Homo sapiens: one gene and its partners. The protein of the gene in region 1 purifies or fractionates together with the protein of each later gene. This does not show direct contact. Each region holds a gene or a part of one and is shown on either strand. Other genes may lie near its edges. The genes, in order: ZBTB38, IPO7, DHX36 and RPL26L1.

Region 1 (8,032 bases):
GTCTGGTTGTGAGACCTTCTCAAAGTCACTATAAAACGAGGATAATGAGGTCGAATTCTGGTGCGTGTGTGTTAATGAAATAGCCTATGTAAAGACATTGCCCAGTGCCTGGTACTCAATAAATGTAATTTGTTTCCCACGGATGAGTGGAGCAGAATGCTTCCTGGAGAGCATTTCATTCTCTGATTTATCATTATAAGATCAGGCCTATCCAAAACACTCAATCATCAGAAGACTTCAATCTCTTTTATTCTGCTTTTTTCCTAATGTCATAATCCATTTGACTCCTAAGCATGTAAGTAGGTACCACGGAATGTAAACAAGTAAGGAAACAGAAATAAACTGAATAATACGTGGAAACAAAGCTGTGACTCACACAGATGAAATAGCTGCACAAAAGAAATAACATGAAAACATTTAAAAAGAGACTTAATGTAGGAATAAGCTATTTTAATCAAGCAAAAACAAATTTATATCCATTATTTCTAAAAATAAAATTAGACTTTTCCAATCCTTAACATCTGCATTTAATAATATCTTCTAACCAAAATACAGATGCTAAAACAGCAAGTTACATTATATCTTGTACAGCATACAGTATGTTCACTGTTTACACTTACTTTAATTCTAGTTGGTCATGTACTCAATGCATACTTAAACATCACTCAATAAAATTTTCACAATTAACAAAAAAATGTGACAAGGCTGTCTTAAAACGGCTCTGCTATAAATTGTATAGAATATACAGAATTACAAAGTCAAGTATTTTTTTATCAAAATATACACCCCTCCCTGAAACTAACACAAGCTATCAACATTTTAAATGAATACAATTATAGAAAATATTTGCAAAATTATTTTTTCATGTATAAATATTCTGCCATATTTACTTTGGTCTAGAATTATCAGCATACAAGTCCACTTAAAAAATATCCACATATAAGGGCTGGGAGAGAGACATCACTACAGGTAATTTTATATTTGGGGTTAACTCAAATCAAAATGACTAGAATATACAGTAAATGTCTTTGATTAATATTATTAACTGATAAAACAAATTAGTGGATCATAGGATTGCTTATTCAATATTCTAATTATCAATTCAAAAATGATTTTCGTAAGCCCTTTGTGACTATCTCTTTAATAAAACCCAAATGAATAGTGTAGGGTGTACATATATACAATGTATAAAATAAAGTTGAATTTGCTTGCATTTTCCCATTTTTCTCTACTTATATAATACTGTATGTAAGTGAAAGTAGATGAACAAAAGATAAATGCAGATACAATAGTGGGGTTACTTAACAGCAAGGTACTACAGTATTAAAAGGTCAACTTTAATCATGTCCTTTCCTGGGCGTTTAAATGCTTTCTTACCCACCCAAATCCATACTAAGTCTTCTTCATGGAGACATCACACTTGTAGACAGAAACCGGAGTCCTTTGAGCTACTTCTTCACAATGATAACCTTCCAATCTTCGATAACCTTGGGTTTCCATCTGTCAAATCCAATGAACATGAATGACTGCAGGTCACGCTGAAACTGCATTCCGGATTCTGTTCACACTGGTGATCAAAGGGTAGAAATGTTTTCTCTCTCCCTTCTATTCTGGCAGTTTGAAAAAGAATCATGAGTTCCGGCTTTCCAGGAACCTAGTCCACATGATAGAATATGCTGTAGGGCAATTAGATTTGAGGGTAGTGTTGATGGTGTGGGTCAAAGAACATAAAAAAAAAACTTCAGTGGGTTTTTAGCAAGGGGTCTAGATGTCTGCAAATATGAAGACAGAGCATCTGGCTTTGTAGATATATTTCTGAGTCTCATAAGTAAAGGATAGAACCATGTCACTCCACATCCTACCTTCCCACCCCCTAAAAACAAAGCTACTGTTTTAGGCAAGGAAGGCCATCACTTCTTCTTGCCCACTCAAGTCATTAATGGGTGGGGTGGAGGGTGGGGGTTCCTTTGTCCTTTTGCTTTATACTAGTCTGTACTTGTGGGCTGCATAATCTCCAACAAGGCTAGTAATTGTAGGGATTAGGCAGTCACTTTCAAGTGCCTGGGAATTCACTACTGCAGTGTACCTTGCACTAAATCTCTTGGACAGTCCTTCAGTGGAATGGGAGATGGCAGGTTCCACTTGAGCCCTTAAGTCTGTCTGGAATAGACCCCCACATCCATGGCCTTGTGGTGGTTGGAAGACTGCAGAGAGTTTCAGAACAATGTGACCCTCTTTCATTCTCTGAGATGAGGCCATTGCAAAGTAATATGCAGCACAGGTAATCACAGGTAAATTCTGGGAGGGTGTTCCCCCATAGATAAGGCATGACCTATGTTTTCTGTGAATTGAGTAGACCAGTTCTAAGAACAGCTCAGCCATAACTTCAAGGGAACAGCATTCCATCTAAAAGCATTCACATGCTCTTAAATCATATTCAAAATGCTTTCTATTGATTTTTACATCAGTCCTCATTATTTGCAGATCTATTGCTCCTCATAATTCTCTACAGGGGATATGGACAGTTAAAAGTTATAGTGATTTATATATGTATTTTACAAGGTTTGTGTTGCAGAAAAGTAGTTCTACATAATGTATGAATGTCCTACTTTAGGTTACTCATTATGCACATAATTTCAGTTATATTGTTTAAGTATTTCATGTGTATCCATTAATTTAAACAAATTTTAATAGTGCAGAAGCCAGATGGGAATAAAGACCGTCACACAGCTTATTACCACGTAACATATTTACGAAGATGCCATCTTCAGGATATCTGACCCTTATTTTCTCCAGTGACTAAAGACAGTTCAGCAGCCAGTTCTTATTAGCAATTATTAGAAAGTTTTAAACTAGGCTAAAATTAAACTCCTTTTTTCACTGGTAGAAATACCACAGCTAAGAATTTTATTAACTTTCACAAGAAACTTGGGATATTGGAGGAGTCAGCTATTTTGTTTTTGTGCACTTTGCATAAAGTTAATGCTAAAACCCAAAGTAGATATTAGGATCCTTTTTCTGGAATTTTCACAAATGAGTTTTTTTTTTTTTTAATTTCACTCCTTCATGACTGTCACATGGACAAAATGAAACTAAACTTAAATCATAACTAAAAAAACCACCAACTATATTTTTGAAGATTTTTCTAATTCTTGCCACTCAAAGGACAACATTTTCCACACCGGTTTGTATGTTATCCTTTTGGTCATTGTCTTCTGAACCAATGAAATGTTGATTCTCCAAGGGATTTGAGTTTTCGTGGCACACGTCACCTATTTTCTCCTGCTGACTTGGGCTTTTGAATAAGTGTTTCTTTTGGTGCATTCCAAGGGCAGCAGCTGTTTTGCAAATTTTGGGGCACTGGAAGCAGGCATAGCCCTTCCCATTATGCTCCCGAATATGCCTCTGCTCGTGATTCCTTTTGGTGGAGAGATACAAAAATCTCTGAAAGCAGAACTGACAGTGGTAACGCTTTTCTCCAGTATGGATTCTTTCATGGATTTTGAGGGTCTCATTCAAGGTGAATGCCTTGTTGCAATACTGACAGACGAACTCCTTCAAGCCCAGGTGGATGCGTTCATGTTTCTGTAAGTTTCCTTGCACCGAAAAGCACCGTCCGCAGGTCTTGCACTGGTATGGCTTCTCCCCGGTGTGACATCTCATGTGCATTTTGAGTGTGGAAGGGCTCTGGAACTGCTTGGCGCAGAGCTCGCAGGCATATGGCCGAGAAGTAAGATGTCGGTGGGGCCTTCCTTGGTTTCCAGCCCCCACTGCTTTGTCTCCATCACAGAGTTCACACTGCAGCTTGGGCATCTCTTTAGTTTCTTCTTCCTCAAAGGGTTTATCCTGAGGAGCCTTCCCCACGGCGCAATCCAGTTCTGCTGGGTATTTACATTTATGGCTCGGGCTCCTGTTTCCGTGCTCCTTCCTCCAGTTGACTTTCCTCATTTTTTTCAACTGTCTGGATTTCTTTTTGGGTTTGTAGTTGTAGTAAGGGCGCCACGGTTTGTCAGTGGAATCCTGGTCACTTGCGTCATCGAACACTTCACTCATCTCCATGCACTCGGATTGGCAAAGCCCGAGTGGGCTGTCTCCACTGGGTTCTGGGTCATTCCCCTGTGGCAAAGGCTCCTCCTGCATCTGATACTTGGGTCTTCTCCCTCTTTTATAAAACAATTTAGATCCTAGAATGTGCCTTTTCACAATGGCTTCGTTTCCAATTTTCACTGTTATTTGGCAAAGGGGTGCAACATTACTATTTGTGGAGGTTCCCGGCAGAGCAGGTTTTGCAATGTAGGTTTCAATTTTGCTGGTTTCTTCAGCAATATTTGTGGTTTTGCTCAGTGATCCTCCAGGATCAGCAACATAGTTTGACTCCTCCGGTATTTCTCCCCTGGTATGTGATGTAGTTTTCTTTTTCTCCTTAATGCTTTTGGGTCTGCTTGCAAACCTACCCACTTTATCTGGCTCGGGCTTACTGTCATCTTTCAGGGACTGACTGACAGCTGGGTCTGAAAAGGCTCTGTGGTTGCTGCTGGTCATGGCAGCAATGGCATTGCTGTGCATGATCACCGATGAAAACTGGCTGCTGTGTACAATGACCGAGGGTGCAGAGCCACTGTAGCTGATCACAGAGGCGGCATTCTCACTGCTATTACTCAAAGATAAAACAGGTACATCCCCTGCCCGGAGGTCAGAACTGACAGCATTTTCAGTGGAAGAAACTGACACCTCAGTTGAATAAAAGTTATTGTCAAGATCCATTTTCAATGCCTCCTCTCCCCATTTGGTACCCTCTGCATTTTGTACATTGGCAGAAGTGGGTATGTCCTGACATGCAGATGTTTCCAATGGGATGGCTGGACTGTTGGTCAGGGTGTTTACAGTATCTTGGAAATTCAGCGTTGGTAATTCAGAGCTGTGTGGATTCTGAACAACATAGGTACCAGGTGCAGACTCATTCATTTGACTGTTTTCTCGTGCATTTTCATAGGAAGAATTTCGGTAGCTCTTATAAGGGGCTCTCTTGCATTTCATAGGCAGTAGCCTATAAAGTTTATACGGATAGACACTAGGCTTCAAGCCTCCATTTGCTGTTTTTTTACTGATGGAAAGTCTATGATCGATGGCATGGAAAGACTTCTGATGATTTTTGAGTATATAGTAGGTCATGAAAGTTTCAAGACAGAAAATGCACTGATATCGTCTTTCTCCCGTATGCCAAATTTCATGCCTTGTCCTGTACTCAGCCAATGCAAATACTTTGTTGCAGTAATGGCAAGGATATGTTCTTCTCCAGGAGTGAACATTTGCATGTCTTCGGAGGCTAGATAAGGTCACATAACTACGTTTGCACACAACGCAACTGTAGAGCATTTGCCCATTAACAAATTTAACCATGTGGTCCGTGTCTGGCAAAGTACTTCCGGTACTGGAAAATTCACCAATCCTATTTTCAGATAATAAAGGTTCTGGACCTGTGAATGAACCTCCATTTTGTCCAATGGTAGGATAGTTTTCTAAAAAGCGTTGGTTTCCTCCAGGAATGGGCATGTGGCTTGACCTCATGCAGATCTGTTCATGCCGATCCAACCTGTTCAGGGTGGTGAATTGTTTGTTGCAATACTTGCACACTAAAGGCTCCTGGGTTGGCTTGTGAAGCTGCATGTGGGCACTGAGCAGAGTGCTGCTGTCAAAGGCTTTGGAACAGCAGCTACAATTGTACACCAGAGGTGGAACCTCTGCGGCTGGCGGCCCGGGAACATCAGAAGATTGATTTTCATCTTCCCTGGAAAAATGGACATCTCCTTCATTGTTTGGAGATTTTGAACGAGTGAGAACAGCAGCTGGTTGTGGACTTCTTTCTTGATTAACCTCTAAGTTGGATACTGGAGGGGGTGGTATATTTTCTGTGGCTGAATCCGAATCCTGTGGTATGGAGAATGTCTTTGGCTTCCGGCATGTTTTCGGTTTCGCTGCAAGGGCTTCACAATTTTCTTTCCCTGTGTTACCAGGTGAACTGCCATCATGTTCACGTACAGGCTGACTTCTGTAAGCTTCAGCTACGGAAGAAACAGCGTATGAGTGCTCGGCAAGTGTGCGGACAGGCTCTGCCTCGTGGCAGACGTCCGTCCTCTCCAGGCAAAGGCTAGCTGTTCTCATGGAGTCGGAGACCTTTTTGAAACTTGCCCTCAAGTCCAGCGGGGAAAACATGTTATTACTATTTTCTGTTTCGATGATGGAAAATGCATTTGTGATCCTTGGCCCATTAGTGATGGCTGGTTCTTCATGCCTTTTTTCATTTTTTTCTTCTTTAACCACTCCCTTTTCAGTAATACAGAATACATAGGGACCCGGGGAATTTGAGAAGTTGCGATCAGTAAGGTCTTCCAAGAACGATATTCCCAGCTTTTTTCCTGCAGCTGCGAGATCAGTGACTGTTTCCTGTCTCTTGACAACGACTGTGGAACTGTAGATATAATTAAGTATTTCAGTAAACACTTCAGCTTTGAGATCGTCCAGCTCCAGGACGTGGCTGGAAATACAGATTGTATGGCTCCAAAAGATATTTTTAAAATACAGGCTTGAAGCTGCCAGAACATTGCTATGGGCTTTAAATTTGGTATCTTCCACAATGATAGTGACATCGCATAAAATGCCCCGAATGCGCTGCTCATTTAAGATGGAGAGTACCGTGTCACTGTGAAAGTCGTCCTTGAGGTCCCTGGAAAGGGACATGACTGTCATCTGAAACAAGAGGAGAGAAATGGTCAGATAATCTTCCACAGGTGGCTTCTTTATCTCTAGACTATTTTCCACTTCTGTGAAAAACTGTTCTTTTGTATGAAACTTCAGGTTTTTATCTCATTCTGTTGATGCTCCCGAGACTCAAGAGTCAACATTAGAAGCTAAATCTTTTTCTTGCCCCAGCCTGTTTCTCATACCATTGCTAATAGTTGTTATCATTGGAAATCCTCCCAGAACTCCTTCCCCTTTTCTCCAAAGTTGGAGCTATATATACATGTCCAAATTTGGGAGGGGAGGAGGTTTTTTTTTTTTTTCTGAAATGTTAAGGGTCTCATCATCATTCAAGGCTGCTGCTTTGAACTACTAGAGCTGGGCAATGCCATGGTCCTGCCAGAAGCTTCCTGCCTATTTTCAAAGAGAAATCTGATGATCCAGTCACAACCATGAAGCAGGAAAATGATTTTTTTTTTTTTGAGACAAAGTCTCGCTCTGTTGCCCAGGCTGGAGTGCAGTGGTGTGGTCTCCGCTCACTGCAACCTCCACTTCCCCGGCTCAAGCGATTCTCTCACCTCAGCTTCCTGAATAGCTGGGACCACAGGTGAGAGCCACCACGCCCGGCTAATTTTTGTATTGTTGGTAGAGACAGGGTTTCGCTATGTTGCCCAGGCTATTTTTTTAAATGAATTTTCCTTAAGTGGTACCTATATGCAAAGCTATTGCCCACTCAGAGAAGAAGCAAGAACTGAAGGAGCCCTTCCTAATTTGTGGCTCATAAGGGTCAATCTCTAGAGTTGCAGGGTGTGTAACCAAGTCTGACCACCAGGGGCACCCCCGCCTCTCTGCGCTATTGGCCCTATGGTGACTCATCAGGTTCCTTTTCTAGTTTCCCCTTTAGTAGAGACAAAGTAGACTAGGGTTTTCAAAAAGAACTGTCAGGTACTGAAGGCAACTAAAAAGGAGACAAAATGTAAAACCAGGAAAGGACATTTCTAAGTCCTTTGACAAGAACGGACAAGAATGAATCTAGTCATAGATTCCTGAATTAGCACAACTTCAAGGCACAGTGGCTCTTGTTCTGGTCTGAGGATCCCATCTCCATTCTTCTCTGTATTTTCTATATTCTCTATATAAGTCCTATTCCATGAGTCTGGTGTGCTAAAGCTTACTAACTGATATTATAGTGAGGGGCAGTGAAAAGTAGCAGCTTTCATACTTCCCACAGTAAGAGATACACAGTACATAGTGACCTAAGACACAAATGAAATTAACACTCACCCTTACTAGG
Region 2 (8,032 bases), on another chromosome or scaffold:
TTTTTTACTGCCAATTATATTATTTATATTAATATTCTGGGAGCAGAGATATACCTATACTATCTACATTTCTATTCCTGAACACTTATTCATATGTTTATACTCATCTAGTTTTCACTAGCCTTCAAGTCCATGTTCATTTCTTGTCTGGAGTTTATAGGGCAACATTTGCCCTCAACAGGCTGCCTCTTCCTCCCTCCGTTCCTCTCTCCCCTACTGGTTTTTTGTGTTATTGTTGTTTTCTTTTTTAAAGAGAAAAGGGTTTCCTAGAAATGTCAACATCTTAGCTTTTTGTAGTTCTTTACGTGAGAAAGGTTAGGTGTTTTAGCTACCACCTGTGTATGAGAAGTTAGTGGTTGTCAACTTGCTGTAATCCAGAATGGCACTACAGGATAGGTGCTTTGATCACAAAGACCAAGATGCCAGAGGGCTAGACTATGAAAGATAGGAGGCAGACAGCTCCAGATCCTCACAGCTATCCAGATCCTTTAGTCTTTCATCTGTGCAATGAACATTGCAGTTATTCATATTAATTAGGGTACCTCAAGTAATACTCAGAGCCTGTACACAGGGTAGGAAATTGTTTCCTTGATTTAGATACCTGATTTAAAGGATAAAGCCTTACTGCAATTTATATTCTGTTTTGATCAGGTTCTTACAGGAGTTGCAGGAGAAGATGCAGAGTGTCATGCAGCAAAATTGTTAGAGGTCATCATTCTGCAGTGCAAAGGGCGTGGCATTGACCAGGTCAGTGAAGCTAATAATGATTTGTAGTTCAGAGGGGTAATCTTTTCCTTCCACTTTCTTTCTTCATTTTTTGGCATTTGTTGCATATTCTGTATGTTTTTGTTTATTGAGACATCTAGACAACTAATATTTTTAGTTCAAAATGTAACTAATATATAATAATGATCATATGTTTAATGTACAGGAATTGGACTAAGTTTTATGGCTACTTTGTTATCATGAAAGGTAAACTTTTGCTTAAGATTTTTTGGATAGCTTTAGTAATTAAATATCCATGGTCAGTTTTTTTGTTTGTTTGTTTTGTTTTGTTTGTTTTTTGTTTTTTGTTTTTTTTGAGTGAGAGTCTTGCTCTGTTGCCCAGACTGGAGTGCAGTGGCACATTCTCTGCTGACTGCAACCAGATTCAAGCAGTTCTCCTGCCTCAGCCTCCCAAGTAGCTGGGATTACAGGTATACACCACCACAACCGCCTGATTTTATATATATATATATATATATATATATTTTTTTTTTTTTTTTTTTTTTTTTTTTTTTTTTTGAGACGCTGTCTCGCCCTGTCGCCTAGGCTGGAGTGCAGTCGCGCAATCTCAGCTCACTGCAACCTCTGCCTCCCAGGTGCAAGCAGTTCTCTGCCTCTGCCTCCTGAGTAGATGGGATTATAGGTGCCTGCCACCACACCTGGCTAATTTTTTATATTTTTAGTAGAGAAGGAGTTTCGCCATTTTGGCCAGGCTGGTCTCAAACTCCTGACCTCAAGTGTTCTGCCCACCTCAGACTCCCAAAAGTGCTGGGATCGCAGGCATGAGCCACGTCACCCGGCCCACGGTCAATTTTAATAGGAACTTGTGAAGCCATGATTGATATCATCGTGAGCTTTTATTTATTTTTTATTTATTTCATATATTTTTTTGAGACAGAGTCTCGCTCTGTCGCTCAGGCTGGAGTGCAGTGGCGCGATCTCAGCTCACTGCCTCTGCCTCCCAGGTTCACGCCATTCTCCTTCCTCAGCCTCCCAAGTAGCTGGGACTACAGGCACCCGCCACCACGCCTGGCTAATTTTTTGTATTTTTAGTAGAGACGGGGTTTCACTGTGTTAGCCAGGATGGTCTTGATCTCCTGACCTCGTGATCCGCCTGCCTCAGCCTCCCAAAGTGCTGGGATTACAGGCGTGAGCCACCACTCCCGGCCCGTCGTGAGCTTTTAATAGCTCCATGAAGACTACTAGACTTTCTCTAAAATTAGATTTCCCAGTGCAGTGCCTCAGCAGTAAATATTGGTCATCTAATGCTACAATAGGGTTAATTGAGGCAACAAAGAAGTTAATATTTTTAGAATGTTTGCATGCTATTAATTATAGTCTTAGAATATCTTGCTATCTTTTTTTGTAGTGCATTCCCTTATTCGTGGAAGCAGCCTTAGAAAGACTGACAAGAGAGGTTAAGACAAGTGAACTTCGAACTATGTGTCTGCAAGTTGCAATTGCAGCTTTGTATTATAATCCACACCTACTACTCAATACCTTAGAAAATCTTCGCTTCCCTAATAATGTTGAACCAGTTACAAATCATTTTATTACACAGTGGCTTAATGATGTTGACTGTTTCTTGGGGTAAGTGATGTATTGCAATTTTACTACATTTGCTTTGGGAGGAACTCTGCTTATTTAAGAAAAGAAAACAGTTTTTTTTTTTTTTTTTTTTTTTTTTTTTTTTAGGCTTCATGACAGAAAGATGTGTGTTCTCGGACTCTGTGCTCTTATTGATATGGAACAGATACCCCAAGTTTTAAATCAGGTTTCTGGACAGATTTTGCCGGCTTTTATCCTTTTATTTAACGGATTGAAAAGAGCATATGCCTGCCATGCAGAACATGAGAATGACAGTGATGATGATGATGAAGCTGAAGATGATGATGAAACCGGTAAGGGATTTTCAATGGAAGAAGACAAAACTTATCTACTTAGAAATATTACCGCACTGGGCCGGGCGCAGTGGCTCAGGCCTGTAATCCCAGCACTTTGGGAGGCTGAGGCAGGTGGATCACACGGTCAGGAGTTCGAGACCAGCCTGGCCAGTATGGTGAAACCCCACCTCTACTAAAAATACAAAAATTAGCTGGGTGTAGTGGTGGGCACTTGTAGTCCCAGCTACTTGGGAGGCTGAGGCAGGAGAATCGCTTGAACCCATGAGGCGGAGGTTGCAGTGAGCCAAGATTGCATCACTGCACTCCAGCCTGGGTAACAGAACGAGACTCCATCTCAGATTAAAAAAAAATATATATATATATCACTAGCCCTTCTCCCAAATAAATGTGGGATCATACCCAAATGCTTTCATTCACAGAAAAGACTTCCTTTCTTCTCACTAGAGTGATGTAATCAGGAACTTCAGCTGTATTACCAACATGTAGAACAGTTCAAACCATTATAGTATGCAACCAACAAAGATTTGTTTATTTTACACATTCTCAGCACTGTAGATACAAAGATGAATGAGATGTCATGCAGTTCTTCAAAAGTTTTCTATCCGACTGTGGGAAAGTATTACAAAGCCAAATAATTATGTATATAATAATAGAGTTGACACGAAGTGCTGAGTCCACTTAAGAGCGAGAGATTATAGTTCCCTTTTTTATATGGTGGCATGAGCCTATAGTCCCAGCTACTTGGAAGTCTGAGGTATCAGATTCGCTTGAGCCCAGGAGTTTGATTCCAGCCTGGGTAACATAGTGAAACCCCAGTTTTTTGTTTTTTGGCTTTTTTTCCTTTGAGACGGAGTTTTGCTCCTGTTGCCCAGGCTGGAGTGCAACAGCGCGATCTTGGCTCACTGCAACATCTGCCTCCCGGGTTCAAGCAATTCTCCTGCCTCAGCCCCCCAGATAGCTGGGATTATAGGCACGTGCCACCATGCCCAGCTTATTTTTGTATTTTTAGTAGAGACAGGATTTCACCATGTTGGCCAGGCTGGTCTGGAACTCCTGACCTCAGATGATCCACCCTCCTGGGCCTCCCAAAGTGCTGGGATTACAGGCGTGAGCCACTGCACTGAGCCGTGAAACCCCATTTCTTTAAAAAAAGTTGTGGGGATTACATGAGGGAATCCTTGACGCTTAAATAGTGCTTGGCAGATGGCACTGAATTAACAGTATTAACAAAGGTACACATATCATTATAGTTACTATTACAAGATTTATGGGGGTTTTTTTTGTTTGTTTTTTTTTGTTGTTGTTGTTGAGACGGAATCTCGTTCTGTCGCCAAGCTGGAGTGCAATGGCAATCTTGGCTCACTGCAACCTCCGACTCCCGGGTTCAAGCGATTCTCCTGCCTCAGCCTCCCAAGTAGCTGGGATTACAGGCGTGTGCCACCACACCGGCTAATTTTTGTATTTTTAGTAGAGATGGGGTTTCACCGTGTTGGCCAGGGTGGTCTCAATCTCCTGACCTCATGATCTGCCTGCCTTGGCCTCCTAAAGTGTTGGGATTACAGGCGTGAGCCACCGCGCCCGGCGAATTATGGGGTTTTCATTTTATTTTTAAGCTTCTAAAGATTTATGGTCTTAATGTTGACTAAATTTATTGGAGACATCCATCCTATCATCTATTAATTCTAAAACCTAAGCATACTTGCACTATAACATTATGTTAATTAAATGTTGATAAATACATTTTATCTATAAGACTGTACACTATCAGTGTATAAATTGATAAAATATTAAGAGAAATTATTATAAGGGTTTCAACATAAGATAGCTATTGCTATTTTTGTCTTTTATCATTTACTAACTTAGCCAGCCTTTTAAAAAAAATCTTACAAAAGGTTTGGTGGGTGTAACGGTAGTGTGTTCATACTGCGCAGTTCTTTTTCAGATGTCTAGTATTAAGAACACATTAAATCAAGGTTGGTTTTCTTGGACTCCTATGGAAATTTTCATTTCTATTCATTATTGAACATGTATTTAAACACCAATTCCTGGAGCTCTCTCTTGTCACTTGTGACTTGTAATTTACTGACAGTGATTGAGATGATTGTCAATTTGTTGAGTAACAAAATATGTCATTGTTATAAAAGTACTTATATTATGACTTGGCAGAGGAACTGGGGAGTGATGAAGATGATATTGATGAAGATGGGCAAGAATATTTGGAGATTCTGGCTAAGCAGGCTGGTGAAGATGGAGATGATGAAGATTGGGAAGAAGATGATGCTGAAGAGACTGCTCTGGAAGGCTATTCCACAATCATTGATGATGAAGATAACCCTGTTGATGAGTATCAGATATTTAAAGCTATCTTTCAAAGTAAGTCAACTTGTTACATGTGGATCCATTTCATTGAACAAATCTGTTGTAGTTTCTGCCTGCCCTTTAAAGGAAGAGTTTGGAGGATATCAAACCCAGACTAGAAAAGGCTGGTTAGGCAAAGTAACCAAAATTATTTCTAAGGTTGCCATAGTTTCTGAGTATTCTTTATTCATCCTGTTATTTTACATTTAGATTGTAATTTTGGAAGATTATAGGAAAATAATGTAGTTCAAAAAAGTATACAGTGACAGTGCCTCTTTGCTACTTCTGATTCCCAATCTCCCAGCTTTCCTCAGAAGTAACCACTCTTACGTGTATACCTGTTTGTTGTATGTTATTATTTGTGTGTATCCTTTTTTCCTGCCCAAACCTATACTTAACGTGTTAAGAGTATATTAGCATTTATGGCATATGATCTTATAATTCTTTTTTTCCTATATTCTGTGATGTGTTAACTAATTTAATCTATTATTACTAAATTAGCACTTTCGGCATAATCAAATTTTTAGCTTTAAACAACTAATTTAACCTTGAGATTTTTGAATTATATATGCCTAGGATTCTGGAGCCACGTACACTGTTAAATATTCCAAGAAAAGTCCACTGTTCCTATAATGTGTCATTGTATGTGGCTCCAGAATACTAGGTTCTGGTTGGTTTTTACCATCATTTACTTGGATTTCAACAAGGTATAGCATTTGTGTTTTACCATCCACGTTAAGAAATTAAATTTCCCCTGTATTTGAAACATCTTTTCCTCTCAGAGTTAATTGCTGTTATATATCATTTCCTATGCACTGGGAACTGATGAATATATTTTTTGATAGAATACATTATCTGATAACCAAGGATTTGAGTCTTCTAAGCCCATGACAAGGCAGTTTTGATGCAAGGTTACAGAAGCACAAAGTGCTGGTTTCTGAGCTACATGGCAGCAAGAACTGATTGAGGTGCCAAACTTGTTGTTTCTGTGCCTTGTACTTTGTAGACAGACACCACATGTCAGTCCCTAAAGAATGGTTCCTAACACGGGGCCCATGTACCACAGTAGCCTTGATGATTTTCAAGTTGCTTTAGCTCTGAATCTTTTAAGATGGTTGGGTTAGCTTTATTCCTGAAGTCTCCCTGGTTTGTTACTTACTATATAAGAACTAGTTAGGCTGAGTCCTTATTTGCTGGAGAGATGGATCGTAAGAATGATTAGAGTTTTTGGAGCCATAAAGATAAGCTGTAGTTAATTTTTATTCCTATATCTGTTGTTTCACAAATATGGTAATTTTAAAAATTATTGGGAGAATATAAAATAGATCAGAATTTCAGTATTGCCTCGGGATGGAGTAGGAGGAATAGTGTAGAACGGAGCTACCAAGCCTCTCTTATTCATGTTGTTTTTCCCTTGTTTTTATTTTTTGATAGCTATTCAAAATCGTAATCCTGTGTGGTATCAGGCACTGACTCACGGTCTTAATGAAGAACAAAGAAAACAGTTACAGGACATAGCAACTCTGGCTGATCAAAGAAGAGCAGCCCATGGTATGTTAATTAACTGTAACTCCTCTTTAATTAGTGACTTTTATAGGTTTAAAATTTTATATCGTTTAATTTTATATCATTAAATTTTATCATTTAAGATGATATAAAAGGTATAGTTGTTGCAGGTGATAGGAATTAACTCTAATCTGAGGGATTTAATTCAAGATAACTTAATTTTGGCTTTGGCTACAGTTGGCTTTTTTCGTTTTTTTTTGTTTGTTTGTTTGTTTGTTTGAGATGGCGTCTTGCTCTGTCGCCCAGGCTGTAGTGCAGTGATGCGATGTCAGCTCACTGCAAGCTCTACCTCCCGGGTTCATGCCATTCTCCTGCCTCAGCCTCCCAAGTAGCTGGGACTACAGGCACCTGCCACTACACCTGGCTAATTTTTTGTATTTTTAGTAGAGACAGGGTTTCACTGTGTTAGCCAGGATGGTATCAATCTCCTGACCTCATGACCCGCCCGCCTCGGCCTCCCAAACTGCTGAGATTACAGGCGTGAGCCACCACACCCAGCCCCAGTTTGTTTATTTTTAAGTATAATTGGGCCAGGTGTGGTGGCTCATGCCTGTAATTCCAGCACTTTGGGAGGCCACGGTGGGTGGATTGCCTGAGCTCGGGAGTTTGAGACCAGCCTGGGCAACATGACCAAACTCTGTCTCTACTAAAATACAAAAAACTAGCCAGGCATGGTGGCACATGCCTATATTCCCAGCTACTCAGGAGGCTGAGGCAGGAAAATTGCTTGAACCTAGGAGGCGGAGGTTGCAGTGAGTTGAGATTGCACTACTGTTCTCCATCCTGGGCAACAGAACGAGACTCCATCTCCAAAAAAACAGAAACAAAAAAAACTAGAGAACACAGCCAGACATGGTGGCGCATGCTTGTAATCCCAGCTACTTGGGAGGCTGGGGCAGGCAAGTCCTTGAACCCAGGAGGCAGAGGTTGCAGTGAGCCGACATCACGCCATTGCACTGCAGCCTGGGTGACAAGAGCAAAAGTCTGTCTCAAAAAAACAAAAAAAAGTACAGTTGAAGACTACTTTCAGTTTGCAATAACTTTAGCTCATGGTGATGGTTAGATAGTAGAAAGTTCTGTTAAAAATGTAAACACCTAAGCCGGGCGCAGTGGCTCACACCTGTAATCCCAGCACTTTGGGAGGCTGAGGCGGGTGGATCACCTGAGGTTTAGAGTTCGAGACCAGCCTGACCAACGTGGAGAAACCCCATCTCTACTGCAAATACAAAATTAGCCAGGCGTGGTAGGCATGCCTGTAATCCCAGCTACTCGGGAGGCTGAGGCAGGAGAATTGCTTGAACCCGGGAGGTGGAGGTTGCGGTGAGCCGAGGTCGCGCCATTGCACTCCAGCCTGGGCAACAAGAGCGAAACTCCGTCTCAAAAAAAAAAAAAAAAAATTTAAACACTTGGCCAGGCGTGGTGGCTCATGCCTGTAATCC
Region 3 (8,530 bases), about 13 Mb from region 1:
CATATTCTCTAATACCTTAATACTGTATTCTATTTATCGCTCCAAACACACCACAATCTCTGTAGAGCCTATATCTATTTTATTAATTAATACAGTGCTTAAGATACTGTCACAAAAATAATGTCCTCAATAAATATTTGTTGAAAGAACATTTGTTCAAGAATGCATCATTAGAATGCATTCATTTTCAGCCAGGCGCCATGGCTCACGCCTGTAATCCCAGCACTTTGGGAGGCCAGGGCTGGTGGATCACCTGAGGTCAGGAGCTCAAGACCAGCCTGGCCAACATGGCAAAACCCTGTCTCTTCTAAAAATACAAAAATTAGCCAAGTGTGGTGGTGCACACCCGTAATCTCAGCTACTCAGGAAGCAGAGGGTGCAGTGAGCCGAGATCACACCACTGCACTCCAGACTGGGCAACAGAGTGAGACTCCAACTCAAAAAAAAAAAAAAAAAGTCTTCATTTTGAAAACACATGACATGACTTTAAAAGTGAAAGCTACCGAAATTCTGACTGGGAAACAATGATATCAAGCTAAAGGTGGTCAAAGAAGAGCTGGGACGAGCCCATTGAAAAATACTCCTATTTAAACAAGAAAGAAAGGTACATTTTGGACAGGAGAACAGTATGACACTGTAATGAAAAGTAAAAATAAAGTATGCCTAAAAAAACTATAATTATATCAGACTGGAGACATGGGCTCAGAGAAATGTGCACAGCGGTAAACCTGTTACGTTGAAGCCGTATTACCAAGATTTCCAGAGAACATGTCAAGATGCAACTGAAATATATCAGACTGAGACAGAAGTGACATGACTTCCAATCTGAAGTTGTGAATTAGGTAATAAAATGATCTAATTTTTCCTTTTAAAAGATCACCATAGGCGGCTCTGTAAAGCACAGACAATGCAGAGCAAGAATGGAAGCTAGATGACTAGTTAGAAGGCAAGAACAGAAAACAAACAGTGGCTTGATCTATGGTAACTATTCTGGAGGTAAGTGGTTAGATTGGGATATATTAACAAGGCAGAGATTTGCTGAAATGAAGGGGAAGAAGCAAAGATAAATCTCATTTGGCCTTGCCAAGTGAATAAATGGTCGTGTCACCACTAAAAGGAGGATGGGAACGCAAGTAGAAATGAAAAGTTCCATTCATAACATCCACTGCACAACTGGCTATACCCTTCATGTGGAAACAATAATGAACATTTTTTCCTGACTTATTTAACTTTTCATCTGTTTAGGTATTATTTTCTCAGCTAGACTGTAAGCTCTTTGAATACCACATTTCTTCAAGTCCCTGGAGCAATATGCATAAAACCTTGTTTCAAACAGAGCCTTAATAAATAAAAGTTGTAAAGTTACTTAGACGTCCGTATCCTGATTTTCAAGCCAGTATGCCCAACGAAAAAGTTAATTTGGGGCTGTAAAAGAAATGGATTTGTTTTTTAAAGAAAAGTTTAAATTATGAAGATAAATGGATAAGGCCCCCAAAACACCTGAATGAACATGACATGGTTAAAAGAAATAAAAAGAAATGGAACGGTTTAAAAATAGTAGTCTAGGCCTGGCGTGGTGGCTCACGCCTGTAATCCCAGCACTTTGGGAGGCCGAGTTGGGTGGATCACCTGAGGTCAGGAGTTCGAGACCAACCTGGCCAACATGGTGAAACCCCGTCTCTACTAAAAATACAAAAATTAGCCGGAGGTGGTGGCGGACGCCTGTAATCCCAGCTACTCGGGAGGCTGAAGCAGGAGAATCGCTTGAACTTGGGAGGCGGAGGTTGCAGTGAGCTAAGATCGTGCCACTGCACTCCAGCCTGGGCGACAGAGTGAGACCCTGTCTTAAAAAAAAAAAAAGTTGCCTAAATGATGATCTAATTACACTCTATAATACATTTTATAAGGTGCTTTTAAAAAGTCACCAAAGGCCTATACTAAGAAAGTTCCTGCTTAATGATAAAAATTATTTTTTATTAGAATTTTATTTACTAGTCACTCGGAGAACTTTGTTTCCCTTACTACAGATCTTTAAGACACAAATCAACCTGACAATCACCTGAAGAGAGGAGAGTAAGCCAAATCATCTCTGGAGATTCCTTTCATTTTCCTTTTCAAAGAGAATCTGCTCATCAATAGAAATTTCTCCACCCCAACATAAAAAACAAAAACCTAGGTTTGCAGATAATTTTAACACTAATAATAAAAGCTGGACTATTTTTCTGAATGATCCACATCCAAAACAGTGTCTGCCTGCTTTTGTTCCGCGCAAACCTATCTCAAATGTAGAAAGGTCGCTATGTGCTTCTTCACCAGGCAAAGACCTTAAAGTGACAATTATTATTCTAAGGGAAAGGACGGCCAGAGATACGACAACGACACTCCTAATAAAGTTAATTTCGGTTGGAACGTGAACTTAACATTTGCTTTGTCACAGTTCTCAAGTCCTTTAAGCAAAGTATATATTCAGCCTGCATAAATCCTGCCTGTTTTTGGTCAGATGAGCATGGCTAATGTTACGCAGTACACCCGCTACGGGGAGCGCCAGCATAATATATTTGCGCCTCATTTACATTTCACAAAACACGTGCATCACTTAAGAAACAAAACCAAGAAAAAGGGGGCAGCGGGAGAGAGAAGAAAACCTGTGCTGCCTCATCCTCTCCACTACTGAATCCGAGATTACCTCTTGCCTCTCCGCTTCCTTGTTCTTCTGCCCCTGTTTTTTCGCGTACCACATGCCGATTTCGCGGCCTTTCAGGTGCCCGGGATGCCGGCCCCTGCCGCCTCGACCACCCCCTCCGCCGCCGCCGCCTCCTCCGGAGCCTCGGTTACCTCCATGACCCCCTGCTGGCCCCCCTCCATAGCCCCCACCGGAGCTGCGGGGACCCCCATCACGGCCCCAGTTCTGATGGTAGTCATAACTCATTGTCCTGGCAGACTACAACCCGTCAGAACCAGCAACCGCTGGAAATGGCGTCCGGGCCCGGAAGCCACTGTGCGCCCACTTCCGTTTTGCTTCCGTAGCACCGCACAAGAGGGCGGGCCATTTAGCGTCACAAGCAGTGGTTTCTGGTGACGTCACGGGAGGACGACCCCGGTGGTCTGGAGGGTGGCAGGGATCAGGTTCTGTCTGAGCCCCCGAGTTGTTTATCTTTGTACCTCTGGAGCAACAGCCAGCCAAAGGCTCGTAGATTTTCTTTCCCTAGGCCCAGCAAGTGAGCCAATAGCTTTTGGTTTTTACTTTCTTATTCCTGGTAAATCCGCAGTTTTTTTGCACTTAGGTCCTAGGGTAGTAAACGTTGATTGAAACAAAAGAACCCTTGGATCAATTCGCCGTCTTCTAAAGAAAAGTCTCTAAAAAATGAGTTCTTCTAGTCTTGAAAACAGCCTGACAACTATTCAAATATGTAATTTAAAATCCCCTTACCTCCTTGAAAGTGTTGTCACTATTTAGTACGTTTATCCAATAGTGTTAAGATGAGCGTGTCTACCCAAATTCGGTGCAGAGCTCTTAGGCAATGTAAATAAACTACTTTGAAGATTCATGTGTTCATATGAAGCCACATACTGTTTATTAACCAGCACACTGAGTGTTTTGTACAAGCTGTTCTTGAATAATCAAGTAATTGGGCCACACAGGCTTGGATGTACACCAGGAGATATCCAGCTCATGTTACAGTTAACTGATGTAAAGGTGCTGGGAATACTCACTGAACAAAGCAAGTATGGCATGAGCTTTTATTTGCCTACAGTCTTAAGGGAAAGACAAAGGCTATCTTTGTGCAGTGAATTAAGAAAGGGAAATGCTGTATGCCAGGAAGGGGTCTACAATACACCATTGTGGCCTAAAAATTATTTTGAGCAAAGACATTTGAGTTTCTGAAATCTACCTGTCTAAATGCAGAACCACACGGAGGAATTCAAATCAAGCTCCTCCCTGGGAGGGAAACCCAGGAAGACTGACTCTTATCACTGGAGGTTAGAAGCTGGCAACACACTTGAATAGACATTGTCACAAAGCTATCATATCTGGCATCTGTTTTAAGGTGTCATTTATTTTTACTAAAAGTCATTTGTTTTTTCCATACGTGCTGTTTTCCCCTTTCCTTCCCTTTATAAGATGGTAGATAAGTCAGAACTCTACCTCCCTGAATCACCTTTTTCTGTGAACTCTATTATGTATGTGGTTAAGTCTGTCTTTTCTTTTGCTAATCTGTTTTGTCACTTTAAGTCTGGGGCCTGCAAACACTGAATCTAAGAAAGTAGACAAAAAGTATTTCCTCCCTAAGAGCCAAGAGATACTACAGCAAAAGAATTTAATTTTGGAGTTAGGTGAGTTATGCAACAACTTTTGAGATAAGTAGACTTTTGCCAGACTAATGGGCAGAAGAAAAGTATGGCAGGTGAAAGGAACAATGTGTAAAGACAGATAATGATGTGAGACATCGGAGAACTTAAAACAACTACCCTGAATCTTAAAGCCTGATGGGGAAGGCCAAAGAGGTAGATAGGGGTCTGATTATGGAAAACTTATGTGCCACTTAAAGAACAGTGATATGTTTATGCAGAGCAGTGGTTATTTTGACTGCTTCAATTGGAAATAAATAGCGGAGACAAGAGTGGATACAGGGAAACTAGTTAATGTGATGTAGGGGAGGCAAAATGGGATGACAGGGCATTACATGTGGAAAGAATTGGAATCAGGAGACATTAGAAGATAAAATTACTTAAATTTGATGATTCATTGAATGTGGAGAATTGGAAGGGTTAAACGACTCCAAGTTTAAGATTTGAATTATTAACCCATGGGGAGGCACATTGTATCCTGAGATGAGAAACACAGGACAAGGAACATTTTGGGGGTGAGGGGCAGGGCAAGTTAATGTGTTTTATTTTTACATGTGGACTTTGAGGAACTTATGAAACATACAAATGGAGTATCTAGAAAGCAGGCTGTAAGAGTTAAAAGCACAGAGGCCAGGTGTGGTGGCTCACACCTGTGATCCCAGTACTTTGGGAGGCCAAGGTGGGCAGATAACTTGAGGCCAGGAGTTTGAGACCAGCCTGGCCAACATGGTGAAACCGTCTCTACTAAAAATACAAAAATTAGCTGTGCATGGTGGTGCATGCCTGTAATCCCAGCTACTCAGGAGGCTGAGGCAGGAGAATCACTTGAACCCAGGAGATGGAGGTTGCAGTGAGCCAAGATTGTCCCATTGCACTCCAGCCTGGGCAACAGAGCTAGACTCCATCAAAAAAAAAAAAGAAAAAAGAAAAGTTGAAACGTTAAAAGTACAAAGAGAGTAGACTGAAATTATATGTTTTGGGAGTCCTTGGCACATGTGATTAAGGCCGTAGGAATGAATAGTTTCTATAAAAGCATCCCAATTGGGCACTCCTGATGTGAAAAATATGTCAACTGTCTAAGAGATGAGATTGAGTAGGCATACTGAAGATGATAGGGGCAAAGTGGGAAGAAAATGGTGAGAGTGTTATGGGCTAAATCTTTGTGTTCATGCAAAATTCATGATGAAGCCCTAACTCCCAATATGGCTGTAGAAGAGGCCTCTAAAAAATGTAATTAAAGCAAAATGAGGTCATAAAGGTGAGATCCTGATAATAGGTTTAGTGCCCTTTAAAAAGAGACATCAGAGAGCTTGTTCCTCCCTCTCAGACGAAAGGCCATGTGAGGACAAAACAGCAGCCATCCATGCTCCAGGAATAGCTCTGTAAACCAAAAATACATTTTTTTTTTTTGAGATGGAGTCTCACTCTGTTACCCAGGATGGAGTGCAGTGGCACAGTCATGGCTCACTGCAGCCCCAACATCCCTGGTTCAAGTGATCCTCCCACCTTAGCCCCCTAAAGTAGCTGGGACCATAGACGCGTACTGCCGCACCCAGCTAATTAAAAAAAAAGATTGGTAGAGATGGGGTCTTCCTATTTTGGCTGGTCTGGCCTTGAACTCCTGGGTGTAAGCAATCCTCCTGCCTCGGCCTCCCAAAGTGCTGGGATTACATGTGTGAGCCACCGCACATTGCCCCAAAATAAAATTGGAAGCCCTCCCAACCAACTGAATGGACCCGTCCTCTAAGCCAAAAGCATCCTAAAGTAAACCTGACTTGGTCAGGCCATGATGGGAATGGGAGGTTGGACATGCCTCATTATACCTTCCTTCCTTTGGAATCAGGTACAGCTGACCAGTATTAACATTGAAGCAGAGACCTTAAGACTGACAGAACAGACTCTTTGTAGCAATATGATGTCAACATAGTAGTAGGCCCTGAAAGAAAGCATTTTACCCCAAAATATATTTATTTGACATATTTTGAAATGGCCCTTCAAAGCTGTCTCTCATGGGGAAAATCTACATTCTGTAGAGAACCTCCTTCCCCCTTTCCATTTCTTCTCCATGATCCAGAAGAGGATTAACTAAGAGTCTGGAACCTTTTTAAGTTGAATAAGAAATATTTACAATCTATTCTTTCTGAAGCCTGCAACCTTGGAGGTCTTATCAGCATAATAAGAACCTTGGTCTTCACAACTCCTTATCTTAACCCAGACAGTCCCTTCTGTTGTTTCCAGGTGTTTAGATAAACTCTTTCAATCAATCAGGAAATCTTTGAATTCACCTGTGACCTGGAAAACTCCCTCCTCCTTTGAGTTGTCCCACCTTTCCAGATGGAATCAATGTGCATCTTACATGTATTGATTGATGTTTTATGTCTCCCTAAAATATATAGAACAAAGCTGTACCCTGACCACCTTGGATACATGTTCTCAGTATCTCCTGGGACTGTGTCATGGGCCATGGACATTAGCATCTGGCACAGAATAAATCTCTTCAAATGTTTTAGAGTTTGACTCTTCGCTGACAGCTCTCATTAGGAACTGGATTAGCTGGCACCTTGATCTTGGACTTCCTAGTTTCCAGACTTTAAGAAACACATTTCTGTTGTTTTAGCTGCCCAGGCTGTGGCGTTTTGTTATGACAACACAAACAGACTAATATGGAGAGTCAGAGGGGAAGAGAATTAGTGTTTATTTGTCACTTAGCATTTGCTAGGTATTAGACTAAGTGGCAGGCATTTGTGGCAGAATAATGGCCCCAAAGATGTCCTTGTCTTTTTTTTTTTTTTTTTTTTTTGAGGTGGGCTCTCACTCTGTTGCACAGGATGGAGTGCAGTTGCATGACCATGGCTCATTACAGCCTCGACCTCCCAGACTCAAGCAATCCTCTCACCTCAGCTTTCCAAGTAGCTAGGACTGCAGGTGTACACCACCATGCCTGGCTATTTTTTTTATTATTATTATCTGTAGAGATGAGGTATTGCTATGTTGCCCAGGCTGGTCTTGAACTTCTGGGATCAAGTGATCCTCCCACCTCAACCTCCCAAAGTGCTGAGATTACAGGTGTGAGCAACTGTGCCTGGCTGAGATGTTCATGGAAACTCCCTGGAAACTGTGAATATATTACATGGCCAGGGCAAAGTAAGGTTGCTAATCAGCCGATGTGATAATTAATTTTATATGTCAACTTAATTAGGCTAAGGGATGCTCAGAGAGCCAGTAAAACATTATTTCTAGGTAGGTCTGTGAGGGTGTTTCTGGAAGGGATTAGCATTTGAATTCATAGACTGACTAAAGAAGATCGTCTTCATCAATGTAAGTGTGCTTCATCCAATCCATTAAGGGCCCAAGTAGAATGAAAAGGTGGAAGGCTAATTTACTCTCTCCTCTTGAGCTATGACATCCATCTCCTGTTCTTGGACATCAGCACTGTTGGTTCTCAAGCCTTTAGGCTTGGATTAGAACTACACCACCAGCTTTCCTAGGTCTCCAGCTTATAGAAAGTATATTGTGGGACTTCTCAGTCTCCATAATCATGTGATCCAATCTCTCATGATATAGCTCAGTTTCTGTGTATCTATATCTGTCCTATTAGTTTTGTTTCTCTGGGAAACCTGATGAATGCAGCTGACTTTAAAACAGGAAGATATCCTGAATTATCTGGGTGAGCCCTATGTAATCATAAGGGTCCTTAAAAGTGAAAGAGGGTGGTAGAACAGAAGGTCATAGTGATGTGACATAAGGATTTGACTAGCTGTTGCTGGCCTTGAAGATGGAGGAAGGGGTCACAAGCAAAAGAATTCAGGCAGCCTCTAGAAACTGGAAAGAAAATAGATTCTCCCCCAGGGCTTCCAGAAAGAAATACAACCATACTGATCCTTTTGCAGTTCATGAGCATGATGATTGGGTATTCGTGCACATGTGTGAGATGTGCCACCCTCGAACCTTGTTATGACATCGGCACATTGCTCATCTAACAGGAAGAAAAATAAATAAATAAAAAGAAATACAACCATATTGACCCCTTGATTTTAGCCCAGTGAAGACTCTTGTCAAAACATTATGCTACAGAACTGTAAGATAGTAAATTTGTGTTAGTTAAGACTGTAGTAATTTCTTATGGCTACACTAGAAAAGTAATACAATTCCTTATCTCATTTCACACAATCCTCATGAC
Region 4 (8,032 bases), on another chromosome or scaffold:
TGTTCTCTACGTAGGTAAAGAATAGGTAATAATCCGTTCTTAGAGCTTTAAATGTCTGCTGTGTGCTAACAACTCCCTCTTTTATATCCCAGTCCAGACCACTTTAGACAACCTGTATATCTGACTACCTATAACACAGACCTATAGATCTGACTACCTACTGAACATCTCTATTTAGGTAGCCCATTGACATTTCAAGCTTCTTAAGAGTACTCTTGATCCTAACACTCTCACTGCCTCCAGAATCCAACTCTACTCCCATCTTCCACATCTCCAGTAAGTGCCATTTATATCTCCCCAGCTGCATATGCCCCTAAACCTTTGTTATCTTTAACAACGCTCCTTAACCCCCTCTTGTAATCTACCATCAAGGCTTGTTGATTCTACCTCCAAAGTAAGTCTTGAACCTATTTCCTGTCCAGTTCAAGGCAGCATTGCAGTTCCCTCTTTTACCTTTGTCCATTTTCCACAGAGTGGTATTATTTGCAAATCAGGTCCTATTTAAAACCTTTGGCAGGCTGGGCATGATGGCTCACGCCTGTAATCCTAGCAGTTTGGGAGGCCCAGGCGGGTGGATCCCCTGAGCTCAGGAGTTTGAGACCAGCCTGGGAAACATGGTGAAACTCCATCTCTACTAAAAATACAAAAAATTAGCCAGGCGTGGTGGTGCACACCTGTAATCCCAGCTACTCGGGAGGCTGAAGCATGACAATCGCTTGAACCCGGGAGGCGGAGGTTGCAATGAACCGAGATTGTGCCATTGCACTCCAGCCTGGGTGACAGAGTGAGACTCTGTCTCAAAAACAACAACAACAACAACAAAAAACGGCCAGGCACAGTGGCTCACGCCTGTAATCCCAGCACTTTGGGAGGCTGTGGCAGGCAGATCATGAGGTCAGGAGATTGAGACCATCCTGGCTAACACGGTGAAACCCATCTCTACTAAAAATATAAAAAATTAGCTGAGCGTGGTGGTGGGCGCCTGTAGTCCCAACTACTTGGGAGGCTGAGGCAGGAGAATGGCGTGAACCCGGGAGGGGGAGCTTCCAATGAGCCAAGATCATGCCACTGCACTCCAGCCTGGGTGACAGAGTGAGGCTCTGTCTCAAAAAAAAAAAAAAAAAAAAAAAATCCTTTGGCAGTTTTATATCTGCCAAAACTGACCTGTACATTTTACTGTATGTAAATGATGCCTCAGTTAAAAATAAAATGATTTCAAATTGTGTTCATTGCTATGAAGAAAATATAAAGGATGCTATGATATTGATTAAAGGACCTGGGAAGGCTTCTCTGAGGAACTAATACATTTAAGAGAAGACCTGAGAAATGAGGAGTTAGCCAGGTGCTTACCAATGGTGCCTGATGTGCTTATAAAATCTAAAATCATGGCCAGGCGCGGTGGCTCACGCCTGTAATCCCGACACTTTGGGAGGCTGAGGTGGGTGGATCACCTGAGGTCAGGAGTTCGAGACCAGCCTGGCCAACATGGTGAAACCCCACCTCTACTAGAAATACAAAAATTAGGTGTGGTGGCACACACCTGTAATCCCAAGTACTCGGGAGGCTGAGGCAGGGGAATCGCTTTAACCTAGGAGGTAGAGGTTGCAGTGAGCCAAGATTGCGCCACTGCACTCCAGCCTGGGCAACAGAGTAAAACTCGGTCTCAAAAAAAAAAAAAAAAATCTAAAATCATTGACTGCAAGGCCCTCTATGGGCCAATCCTGGTCTACTTCTCCATCCTCATCTCCTCCTAACCCCCATGTGCTCTACACTTTAACCACACTGGGCTTCTGGGGTCTTTAAATACACCTTGATCTTTTCTCCCGCTGGAATGTTCTCTCTGCCTGGAGTGCTCTTCCTTCTCTCCTTTACATAGGTAACTCCTCATTCTTCGGGTCCTACCTTAAATGTCCGTTCCTCAGAGAAGCCTTCCCAGATCCTTTAACCAATATTATAGCCTAGCATTCTTTATTTTTTCTTCGTAGCAGTAAGCACAATTTGAAATCATTTTATTTTTAACTGAGGCATAATTTACACACAGTAAAATGCACAGGTCAGTTTTGGCAAATGTAAAACCAAATAGCCATTACCCTAATTATGATTAGACCATTAAAAAGACCATTTTTAATCATCCCAGTAAGTTCCTATGTGACTTATTCCAGTTAGTGGTCATGTATTTGTCTATGTACTCATTAACTGCTTACTGGCCATCAGGCTAAGCTCCATGAAACCAGAGAGTTCATCTTGTTTGTTGTCTGACCTCAGTGCAGAGCCTGACACTTAGAGAGGAGAAGGGTCAGTCAATATTTGTTGAATGAATGAAAAAAATTTTTTGAGTAGGTAAGATGTAGAAGGTGAGACAGAGAAGGAGGGCAAAGAGGGAGAAGGAGCTGCTGTTAAATATATATATATTTTAAATTAGAGACATTTATTTATTTATTTATTTATTTAAAAATAGGTATTGCTTTGCTGCCCAGGCTGGTCTCAAACTCCTGGCTTCAAGCAATCCTTCTGCCTTGGCCTCCCAAAGTGCTGGGATTACAGGCATGAGCCACAGTGTCTGGCCTGTTGCCTTTTTTTTTTTTTTTTTTTTTGAGACAGAGTTTCACTCTTGTTGCCCAGGCTGGAGTGCAGTGGCACAATCTCGGCTCACTGCAACCTCTGCCTCCCGGGTTCAAGCCATTCTCCTCCCTCAGCCTCCCAAGTAGCTGAGATTACAGGCACACACCACCATGCCTGGCTAATTTTCATATTTTTAATAGAGACGGGGTTTTACCATGTTGGTCAGTCTGGTCTCGAACTCCTGACCTCAGGTGATCCACCCGCCTCAGCCTCCCCAAGTGCTGGGATTACAGGCGTGAGCCACCACGCCCGGCTGCCTGTTGCCATTTTTTGAATGCCTAAGAGGTATGAATTGTTTCAGCCAAAGGCCATGCTGGCTGAACACTTCTCCACCAGGAGAATAAAATAGCCCTGATTGGGTTTGTTAATATTGCCTCCTCTCACGGGATCTTCTGAATCTCACTTACCTTCCTCTTTCTCTGAGTAGGTGATGGTTCCTCCTACTTTACAGAGAAAATTGAAGTTATCAGCCAGGAACTTTCAGAAATCGTGGCTCCACACCTACACGTTTACCTGTAGTTCCACCCCTCTTATTTTCTTTCCCTTCTGTTACAATGAAAGAAATATCCCAGGCCTGGTGCAGTGGCTCACGCCTGTAATCTCAACACTCTGAGAGGCCAAGACAGGTGGATCGCTTGAGGCCAGGAGTTCGAGACCAGCCTGGCCAACATGGCGAAATTCCGTCTGCACTAAAAATATAAAGATTAGCTGGGCGTGATGGCACATGCCTGTAATCCCAGCTACAAGGGAGGCTGAGGCAATGAGATATCACTTGAACCCAGAAGGCGGAGGTTGTGGTGAGCCAAGATCACGCCACTGCACTCCAGCATGGGTAACACAGCAAGTCTCTGTCTCAAAAAAAAAAGAAAGAAATATCCCTGTTTCTGCCTAAGCCTAATCCATCTGCCACTGGGTGCTGCTCCATTCTTCTCTTGGAGCTTTTTTGGTCCCTTATCTTCTTTCTCTGTAGTTTCTTTTACCGTCTTCCTCCATACTTGTTCCTTCCATCAGCATTTAAACACAATCATGTTTTCCCTTCTTTAAAAATAAAAAATAAAGGAAAGTTCCCTTAGCTTTCCATCCCCCTCAAACATCTATCCCCTTCTCATCTTCAGAGCCAAGCTCCTTTGGACTGTCTTTTCTCACCTTCACCTTCTCACCTGGTACACTCATCACTTTACTGTTAATGGCCTCCATCCCAGCACTCAGTGAAGGCATTCCAGCCACAGCCACTGTTGATGACCTTGTTGTCAGATCTGTTAAATACCTTATCCTCTGTGTTCTTGACAGTCCCACAGAATTTGACATTCTCTTGGCTGCTGTAACACCACACTTGCATGATTTCCCATTCGCTCTGGCCACATTAATCTCTCACAAGCTCTTCCAAAATGCTGGCTTTTCTCACATGTGTACATTCTGCCCTTTTCTCATACCATCACTCCTTGAGCAACATGAAGCTCCTAATTGCCTCTCTGTGGATGACTCCCACGTCTCTATTGCTGGCCCAGTTGGCATTCCAGCTGTGTCTGAATTCTCTGTTAGAATGTCCCCAGATGCTTCAAATTTAGCATGTTCCAAACTAAACTATTTCCTCCTAAAATACGGGGCTTCCCCTATGATCTCTGCATCTGGCAATGGCATTGCCATCCACCTGGTTGCCCAAGCCAGACTCTGAGTATCATCCTTCCCTCTTCATCCTCACCTCTCCAGTCTAGTCGACCAGCCGACTTAGTCTTATCCTGTCTCCTGTCTTCCTCTTCACTATGTCCAGAGGTTGTCCACTTCTCTTTTTAAAAATTTTTTAAATTAATTTTTTATTTTATTTTATTTTGAGACAGGATCTCACTCTGTCACCCAGGCTGGAGTACAGTGGTGCAAAAACAGGTTGCTGCAGACTCAACCTCCTGGGTTCAAGTGATCCTCCCACCTCAGCCTCCCGAGTAGCTGGGATCATAGGCGCATGCCACCATGTCTGGCTAACTATTTTTTTTTTTTTTTTTTTTTTTTTTTTTGTAGAGACGGGGTCTTGCTATGTTGCCTCGGCTGGTCTCCAACTCCTGGACTCAAGCAGTCCACCTGCCTGAGCTTCCTAAAGTACCAGGATTACAGCTGTGAGCCACCATGCCCGGCCTAAGATCTTTCTTCAGTCTTGGCCAGGTGCAGTGGCTCACACATGTAATCCCAGCACTTTGGAAGGCCAAGGTGGGTGGATCTCTTGAGCTCAGGTGTTTGAGACCAGCCTGGGCAGCATAGTGAAACCCTGTCTCTTAAAAAAAGTGTGTATGTGTGTATTTCTTCAGTCTTGATGGTATTAACAAGACTTCTTCCAGGTGTGTCCTGAGAGTCTCTGGTCATGTAGTCTGTGGTAGATTTTTCACTGAGATATGATTGTCCTCTTCAACCTAAAAATCGCCTTGGAAAATAAGCCAAACAAGCTATACGTAGACATTTTAGGAGTATTGGGGTTCTCTAGTTCTTTATATGTGGTATCTCCTCTATGCTTATTAATCAGAGTCACATCGTACCTGGTGGTTTTTTTTTTTTGAGGCGGTGTCTCGCTCTGTCGCCAGCCTGGAGTGCAGTGGCACCATCTCAGCTCACTGCAACCTCCGCCTTCCAGGTTCAAGTGATTCTCCTGCCTCAGCCCCCCGAGTAGCTGGGTCTACAGGCGCCCACCACCACGCCCAGCTAATTTTTGTATTTTTAGTAGAGACAGGGTTTCACCATGTTGGCCTGGATGGTCTCGATCTCTTGACCTCATGATCCACCGGCTTTGGCCTCCCAAAGTGCTGGGATTACAGGTGTGAACCACCGTGCCCGGCCCCCATGCATGGTGTTTAATAAGCTCTTGTGGCTGGGCATGGTGGCTCACACCTGTAATCCCAGCACTTTGGGAGGCCGAGGCAGGCAGATCACTTGAGGTCAGGAGTTCGAGACCAGCCTGGCCAATATGGCGAAACCTGGTCTCTACTAAAAATACAAAAATTAGCCAGGCCTGCTGGTGCGTGCCTATAATCCCAGCTACTTGGGAGGCTGAGGCAGGAGAATCACTTGAACCTGGGAGGTGGAGGTTGCAGTGAGCCAAGATCATGCCAGTGCCCTCCAGCCTGGGGGAACAGAGCGAGACTCCGTGTCAAAAATAAATAAATAAATAAATAAGCTCTTGCTTTCAAGGAAACCCTAATCTAGTTGGTTTTTGAATAGAGTAGATTTTTAGTACAGTAAAACAGTCTGTGAGATTTAAAATTTTTTTTCTGACTTTAAAATATTTGTATTAAATGTAGAAATGTTGAAATTTAGAAGAATATAAATCTAAAAATCAGTCATCTGTAATCCTGCTTCCTGCCTAATGGCAGCTGTTACCAATATTTATATATATATTTTATCCCACTGTGTCATGCTATATATATGAAATGTGTGTGTATATATACATATATACACATATATACGTATGTATACACATATATGTATATATGACATATAAGTACATATATGTATGTATGACATATATGTATGTTACATATAAGTACATATGTGTATGTATATGATACGTGTATGTATATATGACATATAAATACATATACGCACATATGTAATATATATTATATATATACACACACACATACACTCATATAGTTTGAGTATCTCAAATTCAGAATGCTCCAAAATCTGAGACTTTGTCAACGTGATGGTCAAAGGAAGTGTTCTTTGGAGCTTTTGGGATTTCAGATTTTCAGATTTGGGGTGCTTAGCTAGTAATGCAGATATTCCAAAATCCCAAAAACCCTAAATCCAAAACACTTCTGGTCTCAAGCATTTCGAATAAGGGATACTTGACATATATATGTATATATATATAGTTCAGAGTATATTCTATATGTAGTTTTGTATTCTCCTTTTTCCTCTAAAGCTCATATCGCACATTTCTGTGGGATCCAGGTAAAAAATCTCCACCCAACCATAGCACAACACAGATTTATATCAGAAAAGTAGCTAATTTTTGACTGCCAGGATTAAGCTGCTTTTGACAAAGTTATATGTTTAGCCCATGTGTTCCTGATGGTTAGCTTCCTCTTTATGATCATGCACTACAAATGGAGGGGGATTCTCTTTTGTATTTTCTCTTAGGTAGTTCGAGGACACTACAAAGGTCAGCAAATTGGCAAGGTAGTCCAGGTGTACAGAAAGAAATATGTCATCTACATCGAGCGGGTGCAGCGTGAGAAGGCCAACGGCACAACTGTCCACGTGGGCATTCACCCAAGCAAGGTATGGTCAAGGACTGAGTGGCAGTAGCAGCCATGGAGTGTGTCAATACTGTTCAAAGTTATTGGTGTTTTGGTACTCCCTGCACAGTTGGCTGAGGCAGGCCAGGTGGACTTGATTGATTCAGTAGCTTTGTGATATCATCAAGGATCCAGATTTTTCTTCTCTTCTCTTTTCTGTTTTGCCTTTCTTGGTGATGGCTGTGTCTTTTTTTTTTTTTTTTTTTTTTTGAGACGGATGCTCGCTCTGTCACCAGGCTGGAGTGCTGTGGTGCGATCTCGGCTCACTGCAACCTCCACCTCCTGGGTTCAAGCAATTCTCCTGCCTCAGCCTCCCAAGTAGCTGGGACTACAGGCACACACCACCACGCCCAGCTAATTTTTATATTTTTAATAGAGATGGGGTTTCACCATGTTGGCCAGGATGGTCTCGATCTCCTGACCTCGTGATCCGCCCGCCTCGGCTTTCCAAAGTGTTGGGATTACAGGTGTGAGCCATCATGGCCGGCCGATGGCTGTGTCTTTAAGCTGGTTGCAAGAGGCTTCCAAGTGTTCTAGGCATCACTTCCCCTACCACATAATATTCAGAGGAATAAGAGAGAATATATCTTCCTGTAGCCCTCATGCCTACCTAGTGGAACATGCTATTTTTCCTTTGTGTTCCTATTTTGTATTGTGTTACAGGGTCTGTTTTCCTTCCAGAGTTTCAGTTCCTTAAAAGCTGAATGGCTGAGGTCTTACTTAACTTATGATGTCTATATTGCTCAATAGCTGGTGGGGATGCAGAAATAAAGACCTGTTTTCTCACTCCCAACAGGTGGTTATCACCAGGCTAAAACTGGACAAGGATCGGAAAAAAATTCTTGAACGCAAAGCCAAGTCTCGACAAGTTGGAAAAGAGAAAGGCAAATATAAAGAAGAACTTATTGAGAAAATGCAGGAATAAATAGAACCTGTTGTGCAACCACGGTTTAACCGGAGATTTTGAGGCTAGGGTGTGTTTCTTTCGAACTTTTCGGAATGTCTGGAACATTTCATTTCCTGTTTTGTTACCTGTGCCTCTGTAAATCTACTTTTGCAATTTTAAGTAATAATTTTATGAATAAAAATGGGAAATGCTTCCTAATTCCACATAGTATTTGCAT

The links.
Region 2: the proteins of ZBTB38 (region 1) and IPO7 purify together in Homo sapiens (affinity purification with mass spectrometry; 4 studies listed by BioGRID and IntAct, with this or other methods). This does not show direct contact.
Region 3: the proteins of ZBTB38 (region 1) and DHX36 purify together in Homo sapiens (affinity purification with mass spectrometry; 3 studies listed by BioGRID and IntAct, with this or other methods). This does not show direct contact.
Region 4: the proteins of ZBTB38 (region 1) and RPL26L1 purify together in Homo sapiens (affinity purification with mass spectrometry; 3 studies listed by BioGRID and IntAct, with this or other methods). This does not show direct contact.

Annotation. Positions count from the first base shown.
Region 1 is NC_000003.12:141,441,104-141,449,135, reverse strand, and holds part of ZBTB38 (zinc finger and BTB domain-containing protein 38), read right to left. Parts: intron 6,748-8,032; coding exon 3,160-6,747; 3' UTR 1-3,159. UniProt on the Homo sapiens protein: Transcriptional regulator with bimodal DNA-binding specificity. Binds with a higher affinity to methylated CpG dinucleotides in the consensus sequence 5'-CGCG-3' but can also bind to E-box elements (5'-CACGTG-3').
Region 2 is NC_000011.10:9,435,620-9,443,651, forward strand, and holds part of IPO7 (importin-7), read left to right. Parts: intron 1-651; coding exon 652-747; intron 748-2,134; coding exon 2,135-2,355; intron 2,356-2,460; coding exon 2,461-2,666; intron 2,667-4,835; coding exon 4,836-5,042; intron 5,043-6,461; coding exon 6,462-6,578; intron 6,579-8,032. UniProt on the Homo sapiens protein: Functions in nuclear protein import, either by acting as autonomous nuclear transport receptor or as an adapter-like protein in association with the importin-beta subunit KPNB1.
Region 3 is NC_000003.12:154,321,488-154,330,017, forward strand, and holds the start of DHX36 (ATP-dependent DNA/RNA helicase DHX36), read right to left. Parts: upstream 3,001-8,530; 5' UTR 2,930-3,000; coding exon 2,687-2,929; intron 1-2,686.
Region 4 is NC_000005.10:172,961,709-172,969,740, forward strand, and holds part of RPL26L1 (ribosomal protein uL24-like), read left to right. Parts: intron 1-6,750; coding exon 6,751-6,891; intron 6,892-7,704; coding exon 7,705-7,833; 3' UTR 7,834-8,032.